Regions from separate parts of the Homo sapiens genome. Here region 1 is linked to region 2. Evidence: fine-mapped expression QTL. Tissue or cell type: whole blood. Region 2 holds a variant in brackets; the other region holds the start of a gene. All regions are shown on one strand. Distances are from middle to middle.

Evidence for each region. PIP is the estimated chance that this variant, and not a neighbour inherited with it, causes the effect.
Region 1: FAM30A starts here. The variant in region 2 is fine-mapped to the expression of FAM30A in whole blood (TOPMed, PIP above 0.99). The same link has a PIP of 0.9 or more in blood mononuclear cells and lung.

What each region holds. Positions count from the first base shown.
Region 1 is chr14:105,916,226-105,920,411 of GRCh38, forward strand. FAM30A (family with sequence similarity 30 member A) reads left to right here and starts at 1,754. Exons shown (of 6, transcript NR_026800.2): 1 at 1,754-2,592. It also overlaps IGH, IGHD2-2 and IGHD1-1.
Region 2 is chr14:105,902,125-105,906,310 of GRCh38, forward strand. It overlaps IGH, IGHD5-12, IGHD4-11, IGHD3-10 and IGHD3-9. Among named protein-coding and RNA genes, the nearest start is that of FAM30A, 14 kb to the right of the region's middle. The variant G/A (reference allele first, on the strand shown) is at 2,455.

The DNA.
Region 1 (4,186 bases), 14 kb after region 2:
AGCCTGAAGGTACACACTGTACTTTGCCCTTGCATCAGGCACTTTCCTTGTGCTTGCTTCTGTGTGGCTCCACATTCTGGAGAATTTATTCAGATCTGTGCTGCAAATCCATTTCACTGATTCTCTCTTTAGCTGTGTCTACATCAGCTGTTAAGCATCCCATGATGCAGCATTGTGGGCACAGGGCAAACTCTTGAAAGATGACAGTGTAGGATAGCGGCTGCTTCTCCTTCCCTGTGCCCTTCCCACACTGTCCTCCTGGGCTCACTCCCAGCCATCGATCTTGAACACCAGTTTATGGAACTATCTGCACAGGAAAGCAGAAACAGCAAAAGGCCCTGCTCAGGCTCTGCCCGCATCCCCTCTTGCACACCCGCCAAAGCTCTTTCCTTGGGGCCTGTGCAAGCTTCCCAGCTGCTTCTCATTTTCTGTTTACTCTGCTCACTGGCCAGTGGGGTGATGTCTGGGGGGGAGTCTGGTGCGTTTTGGGCATTGATGGCCACCCCTAGGCCCTACTTCCCAGACGCTCCCCCCAGCCCCTCAGCTCCAGAAGTGGAAGCGTTTACAGCAGGGCTTTGGGAATGGGGCTGTGTCACTGTGGGCATAGCAGCTGGTACTACTACAATATCCTCACAGTGACACGAGCCCCCACAAAATCCTCCTGTCCCCGCGGGAGTCACTGAGTCCCCTCTTGCTGTCTCTGGCTAGTTCTCCTGCTGATACTATGATTTCCAGGGGGTTTTTGTCTGAAACTCAGGGTGTGTTGGAGAGGACTCTGAGCCCAGTGCTGTACAGGGGGCTCCTCCTTTGTCCTGGGGGAGTTGCGTGGACCCTGTTTTTGGTCAAGGGAAGTACTTGCTGGTGAAGGAGACCTCCCCTCCTTTCTTTCTCAGGAGCCCCCTCTGATGCCGTTGCCTGGTGTTTCTCAGGGCTGGTGCTGGGGGCTCAGCAGTGTCTGCCCTGTTCCAGGTGGGAATGTGGGTCTGTTCTGTTTCCACGCGGTGTTCTGGGGCCGCCAGTGAGGGGCTCGGGATGTCAGCGGCTGGTCTCTGTCCCTATGGTCTGGGCTCCGGTTCACTGCTCCCCTGCCCTCCAGGTCGGTCACTGACTCAGTTACTATCCAGCGGGCTCCGTGGCTGTTCAGTGGTGGCTGCAGGTCTCTTCCCAGGAGAGGCCTGCGAGAGGGCTGGGCTGTCTGGGAGCCCTGCATTCTCCCATGATGTTGCTGCCTGGATCCCTCGTCTTTACAGGGAGTGCCGAGCCTCCCTGCAGGTGCGGGCAGTGAGAGACACAGGCGGACGTGCATCAGGGTGCTGGAGGCCGATTTCTTTCAGTGCCTTCTGCCTGTGGAAGGGCTGAGCTCCCTGCTTCTGTGCACAGGAGGCTGCCGTGTAACCGGGCAGTGAGGGCAAGGGCCTGCATGGGGAAGACTTGGGTGAGCCTTTGTCCTGGAAATACCAGGGCTGGGTCCAAGAGGGGAGCAGGGTCAGAGTGTCCAGGAGGAAGGTGAGGGCATGGGCAGTGTGGGGGTGGGAGTGCACGGTCAGTGCCATGGCTCAGGGGCCCCAGGAGAGGAAGAGCTCGAGTTGTGGGCAGGAGGAGGCAGGGGGTAGGCACAGAGGGTAGAAACTGAGGCTCTGGCAGCAGAAAAGGGGAGGGCCTGCATGTGCAGGGTTGGCCTGGGAGGGGTGTCTGGAGGGAGAGACAGGGGTCTGGGTGGAGACCAGGGTGTAGGCTGCAGGGATGGGACCCCAGGGTTGTCTGGATGGGCAGGAAGAGCAGCGGGGGAGAAAGGGCTGGAGGCAGGGTTGGGCCTCCCCAGGGTGTGGGGTGCAGGGAGGGGCTGCACAGGCTGTTCCCCTGAAGGAGGGAGGAGGGAGGGAGCACAGAGGTGCTGGGAGCAAATGGAGAGGGAAGTGGCAGCGGCCCGAGTGCCAGGCGGTCCCGGTTTGGGGTTGATCTTTGTGGAACAGCTCCCTGGCCCGTGTGTAAGTGGTCGGGGGAGGCACGGAGGTCTGGAGCTACAAGCGGTGGCAGGAAGGCAGGTCCCAGTCTTGGGGGTCTGGAGCTTATCTTCTTCCTGTGAACTGAGTGTGGGCAGCACCTATGGGCGGTGCCCTGGACCTGTGGTCTGGTGGAGTCCAGGCCTCCCAGGGACAGCAGGGCAGCCAGGGCTAGAGGAGCCTGAGGGTCCAGGTCAGGGTGGCCCTGGGGCCACTGCCTCCACCTTTGACCAGCTCTGCTGTGGGGATCTGGGCATGAGACCCCTTCACCCAGGAGGGGAGCCGCGTGAGTGAGACCCTAAGTCCATACCCCATGGGGGGCTCTGACCCTCCTGCATAGGGCCTGGACAGGGGTGGGTGGGGTGTGCGGGGGGCGGTGGGGAGCCCAGACTCTCCCAGACACAGCCTGCTCTGCTCCAGAATGTGGGCTTGGGCACTGCAGGCTGGCTGGGTCTGGGCTGCCTGGTGTGCCTGTGGTGGCTGCATTCCCACAGCCGGGACTGAGGCCTAGTGAGGACCAGGGAGGAGCCTGAAGGGAGCTCCATGGAGGACCTGCCTCGGATGACACCCCTATCTTAAGAAGGTCATGGTGGGTTCCAGCTGGGAGGAAGGGAAGTGGGCCACCTCCTGGGGGTCTTCCACCCCCACCACCTCAGCCTGGGGCCTCTGTGATTCCTCTCTGCACAGACCCCAAAGTCTGTGCTGCCGCAGGGCAGGAAGGAAGGGCCTGTGGCCTGGTCGAGGTTGGGGCCACAGTGGTGTTCCCTAAGCCCGAGTCTGGTCTCATGGCCCGCCCCGCAGCAGGTCCTGAGTGAGGGACAGAGACCGGGGCGGGGTCTTTGGTCCTGGTGGACTCTGGGGTGGATTCCAGTGGGGAGTCATCAGGGTCGGTGTCCCCCAGGGTACTGGGGTGTCTCTGCTCCTGGAGTCGGCTCTGGATGTGGGGTTTATGCCTGTGCTGCCTGGGGTTGATGCTGGGAGGTGCCAGTGACCCCCGTTTCCCTGAGGGACTCTTGTCGGTGGTAGGGTCAGTTCTGGCCAGGAGCACTGGGACCATAGCAGTAGGATGGGGTCCAGCCCCTTCCATGACCCCCTGGAGCCCTGGTCCCCGTCCTCACCATTCAGTGGGGTTCAGTGGGGACTCCACTGTGCTCTGGCTGCTGGGGGTCGTGTGAGCTGAGCAGGACCTAGGTTCGGGGCGGCTGCTCCCCTCTCTGGCGCGGCCTCCAGCAGGGGCCAGGAGAGAGTTTTGGACACAGTTTTTCTCACGGTGGTCGTTCCAGTTGTACCCACCGTGACTCGGGGCTGTTCAGAATCTGCCCCGGCGCCCTGAGCTCTGGGGCCTCCTGGATGGGGGCTGGGCTTGTGGGCGGCATCTCCTTCGGGGGCTCTGGAGGCTGGGGCTCGCTTTAGTTGTGGGGTGAGCACTGGGAGCCCCAGTTAGCGGAACACCCACAGAGACCGGGGCCTGTACACATTCCGCCCCGGTGTGTGGGGTGGGCCCAGGCCCCTCTGGGCAGGTCAGCTTCAACGGGGAGGGTGCTTGGGTCCTGTTAGTTTTCCTCTGGGTTAATAGGATTCATCTCCTGGCCCCAGATCCTCATAGGCTGCCCCTGTCCCTCCAGCAATGCAGGACATGGCAGGTCACCCTGGAGGGAGGCATGTTCTGGCCTGGGCGTCAGGTGTGGCACCTCAGATCCTCCATGCGTGCTGTGGGCTGAGCAGGACAGCAGACGACCCCGGGCCCCCACCCTGTCTATGGACATTTTTTGCTGCAGCAGCTGTGGGAGCTGACAGTGTTCACAGCCACACCAAGGTCATCATTGTAGTCAAGGCTTTCTAAAAGTTTCATTGTGAGGAAGCCTCCTATTAAACGGCGCCTGGGCCCTGCTTCCTGAGGGTTACTGCTGAGTCCCGGATTTCCCGTAGAGGCGACGAGAGGAGAGCAGAGGGAGGAGGAGGGGGATGAGCTGGGCCCTGCAGAAGGGGGTGCTTGGGTTGGGGTCTGTGGAGTGAAGATCTGGGCTCCTAGGGGCCACCCAGACAACCATCCTCCCTGTTCACACCTTGAGGGTCCCAGCAGGAGCCAGGTGGGGAGACTGTGAGGAGAGGGCCTGTGTCTTGTCTTCCTTGGGCCGTGGGACAGGGTGGAGGTTGAGGGCGTCTTTCCCAGGGGATCACAG
Region 2 (4,186 bases):
CTGCCGGGGTACTCACAGTGCTCTGGGCCCACTGTCTGGGCTCACAGCCTCATTTCCAGGGGGCCGGGTGGTGCTCCAAGCCTCAGTTTCCCCACTGTGGAGGGGATGCTGCTGGAGGGATGAGGATCATAGAGGACAACCTGGCAGCTTCTGTGCCCGCTGCCCGTGGGACCCGGGCTGTGGGATGGGACAGGCTTCCCCATCAGGGCTGGGCCTGCCGGGGGCACAGCACTCTCAAATGCCCACAATGGGGGCTCCGTGGCTCTGTGACTCCGTGGCTCCGTGGTGCTGCCTGCACCTCTCAGGGCGGGAAGCTGCCTTTCCCTGCCAGCCTTTGATTTCTATCTCAATCATCCCTGCCCTGGAGCACAGACCTCCCACTGAGGGAACCCTCCCCACAGAGGGCCAGAGGACAGACAGCAGCCTTGAGAGCCCCAGGAGAAGCAGGTGAAGTGGATGCCTGGGGCTGCGCAGCAGGGGCCTGTCTACTTGGCCTGGTTGCTGCTATGGGCGGCACCACTGTGGTAATCGTAGCCACTATATCCACCACAGTCTGACATCGCCTGACAATAACCACACCTGGAACTGGAGGCGGGGCTGTCAGGAGGAGCTTCCCAGGGAACAGGGAGGGTCCAGACAGCTGAGCCAGGGGCCCCCAGGACTGGGGACGTGGGGGGCTGCTTAGGTACCAGACATGCACAGTGTCTCCCTGGAGAGGCCTCTGCAGCCTCCTGGGCTCTGGGGCAGGCCTCTGGTCAGCAGGAGGCTGGGTGCTCCCCGGCATGTGCTCTCCTGCCCTCACTGGTGAGCTCCTATGTGGCCCAGTGTGGGCCCAGCTCCAGCGTCCACTCCTGTCGGCCTGGCCGAGGGTCCCGGCAGAACTGGGCATGGCTCCTTCTTAGGGGCCTCGAGGACTCTCTCTACAGCTGTACCTGGGGCTGGGGGCTCCACGAGTGGTCTTTTCCAGGTGGGGACGACAATGGCAGGTGTTTCTCTAGTGGCAGGTGAGGGGAACTGTCCAGGGCCTGGCCCTGCGGAACACAGCGGCCTCTCAGAGGAGGGTGTGCGGGAGTCCTGCCTGTTGGGAGCCTGGCGGATGCTGCCTTCTTGATTCCAGCCAGGATGGGAATCCAGGCAATTGGCAGGAGGTACTGGAATGAGGCTGGTGTCTACAGCTATTCAGGGTCCCAGGAATTGGCTGTTGGAATCGGGGCATCTGTCAAGACAGGGTCTGGTATAGCTGGCAGGGAAGGGCCAGGTCACCTGTGGTCATGAGTGAGGTCACCTCAGAGCCCTCTGAAGCCCCTATTTGGAGGAAGATGGTGTGCAGGGCACCAGCCCAGGCTGAGATGGCCCAGGTGTCCCTAGAGGCTGAGGGTCTGGGCACAAATCCTTGGGCCCGGCTCTTGTGCTCCTGGAGAGCTCCAAGCTGAGGCGTGCACACAGCCCCTGGGTTTCCAGCCAGTTTTTGCCACTGGGTTCATCACTATGGTAGTTACTGTAGTCACACAGCAGGAGGGCCCTTCACAAAAAGCCCGAGTGTGGCCAGAGACCTTTCCCACGCAGGCCCTGGTCCAGGCATTTGGGGCCCCTATTGACAGCGGTGCTGCGTCCTGGGGATCTCAGGCCGCTGTGATGCCACTGAGGACTGTCCTGGAAGAGGGTGTCCACTGGGGAGAGAGGCAGGGATTTCTGGAAGGTTCTTTGTCTCTGAATGTGGGAGGCGAGTCCTCTGTTGGCTTCCCCGGTGAGGTCTGGAAATGAGCAGGACTCAGGACGGCCGGGCAGGATGAGCGACGCCCAGCTCCGGCTGTCCCCAGGAATGTCTTCTGTCTTGGAAATGACCCAGGAGAGGCTCAGGTGTCAGGGCCAGGCAGGCCAGGGACCACAGGGGCAGGGACAGTGCACAGGGCCAGCCCCTCCCTCCTGGTGCCCCTACTCAGACATGAGGGCTCTCAGTGTCCACACATGTGGCCCAGCCTTGAGGGAGGGGCTTCTGGGATCGCTGGCCTGATGGCAGCAGATGGTGCTGTGAGGCCGTCCCTGTCCCATTTGGACTGGCGTTGGGAGGGCAGCAGCGATGCAGACCCCTCGGAGCCAGATCTGGATGACCTGTAGGGTGACCTTGGCCATCTGTTTCATGATCTCCAGGGCTGGCAGGCTGGAGCCCAGCGTGGTCAGTCACGGGCCTGTCCATCGTGCCTGCTGCCCTGCGGGTTTGGGTCACAGGCTGCACTGCTGTGGTAGCCACCATACCCATGGTGCTGTCTCCTCGATCAAAATCCTAACATGGCACGTACCGGTCCCCTGCAGGGAGGGCTGTGGCGGGAGGCTCCCAGGGATGGGTTTTTGATGGACTCTGTGACACTGTGGTTATAATAACTCCCCGAACCATAGTAATACCACAGTGACACAGACCTCACCCCAAACCTACCGCCCAGCCTGGGGAAACCC[G/A]GGATGTCCGGGGCTGACCTGAGGAGGCAGCAGGGCCCCATGGGGAGGGCTGTGGCGGGAAGCTTCCAGGCATGGGTTTTTGATGGACTCTGTGACACTGTGGTTATAATAACCAGTCAAAATATCGTAATACCACAGTGACACAGACCTCATTCTAAACCTACCGGCAGGCCTGGGGAAACCTGGGATGTCCAGGGCTGACCGGAGGAGGCAGCAGGGCTCTGAGGGGAGGCTGTGGGCCCAGCGCTCTCAGGTCTGCTGTGGGGACACTCGGGTCTATCCCTCGCTTATGTGGATAGTGTCCGTGCCCACCTGTGTCCTGAGGCTCCACCTCAGGCTGGCATCTGTCCCTATGTCCCTACCCACCCCATGGCCATGTCCTTTCGGGTTCATAAGTTGCCCACAAATCACAGAGTCATCATTCTGGAGATTTTTATATTCCCAGGGCCACCAGCTGCCTCCACCCAGAAAGGTCAGATGTGGGAGACTTCTAGAGTCATTCCCCAACCCTGGATGAGCTTCTGCACCCTCAGTGCTACTCAGGCTCCAGCAAGACCTGGAGCAGGTGCAGGTGAGGCCCGAGGCCAGGTGAGGTCCAGGTCAGGTGAAGCCCAGGCCAGGTGAAGTCCAGGCCAGGTGAGGTCCAGGCCAGATGAGGTCCAGGTCAGGTGAGGCCCAGGCCAGGTGAAGCCCAGGCCAGATGAGGTCCAGGTCAGGGGAAGCCAAGGCCAGGTGAGTTCCAGGACAGGTTAAACCCAGGTCAGGAGACGTTCAGGTGAGTTGAGGCCCAGGTCAGGTAAAGCTTGGGACAGGCGAGGTCCAAGTCAGGTGAGGCCAAGGTCAGGTGAAGCCCAGGTTAAGTGAGGCCCAGGCCAGTGAGGTCCAGGTCAGGGGAGGCTGAGGTGGATGTGTGAGGCGTCTGCAGTTTTCTCTGGGTGCTCACCCTGCCTGGTGTCCCTGCCCCTCCTCTCAGCACCCACTCTGTGCCTGCAAGGTGGTGGCCCGTGCACAGGTGGTGCTGGCTGCGGAGGTGCTGGGCTCTGCCTCCCTGTGCGTGGGCGTCCCTCTCGGGCTCTGCCTGGGGAGTGTGGCTGAGTTGCTTCTCTCTGGAATTCACTGACTGTGCCGTCCTCCGGGATATATGGCCCTGCGCTTGCTCCACATCAGGCCCCAGGAACTGCCAGCAGGTACCCGCCTGCCCTGCTGCACAGTGAGCCTGCAACCTGTCCGGGGATCCCAGGGAGGTGAATGCCACCACACATCAGCCCTTTATCTCTTTAAAGTCGTTTATTTGGGGATACATCATCGATGTCTCATATACTAAATATATGTCTGTATCATTGTGCAATTGCCTGTGTCATCGCTTATTTATCCGACCTGGGTTAATGTCTTTGCTATTATGAACAGTGCTGGACTGAGAATTTTCTAAACACAACTGTGTCCATTTTCCTCTTCTTGCAATTTAGAAGTTTAACTGCTGTTTTCAAGGTACTGTAATGTATTCGTTCTGTTCTTGTTAGGAGACTTGCCCACCCTGTGTATCTCAGTTCATACCCTCTTCCTTCCCCAGCAGAAGTAACCACCACTGTGTTTATGTGATCATCCTTTTCTTGGTTTTCTTTATGGTTTTCTAACTGGGAAATGTATCCCTTAAGAAGACAGTTCATTTTGCAGGGTGTAAATTTTATTTAGAAGAAATCACATTGAAAGTATTTTTTGGAGTTTACTTTGT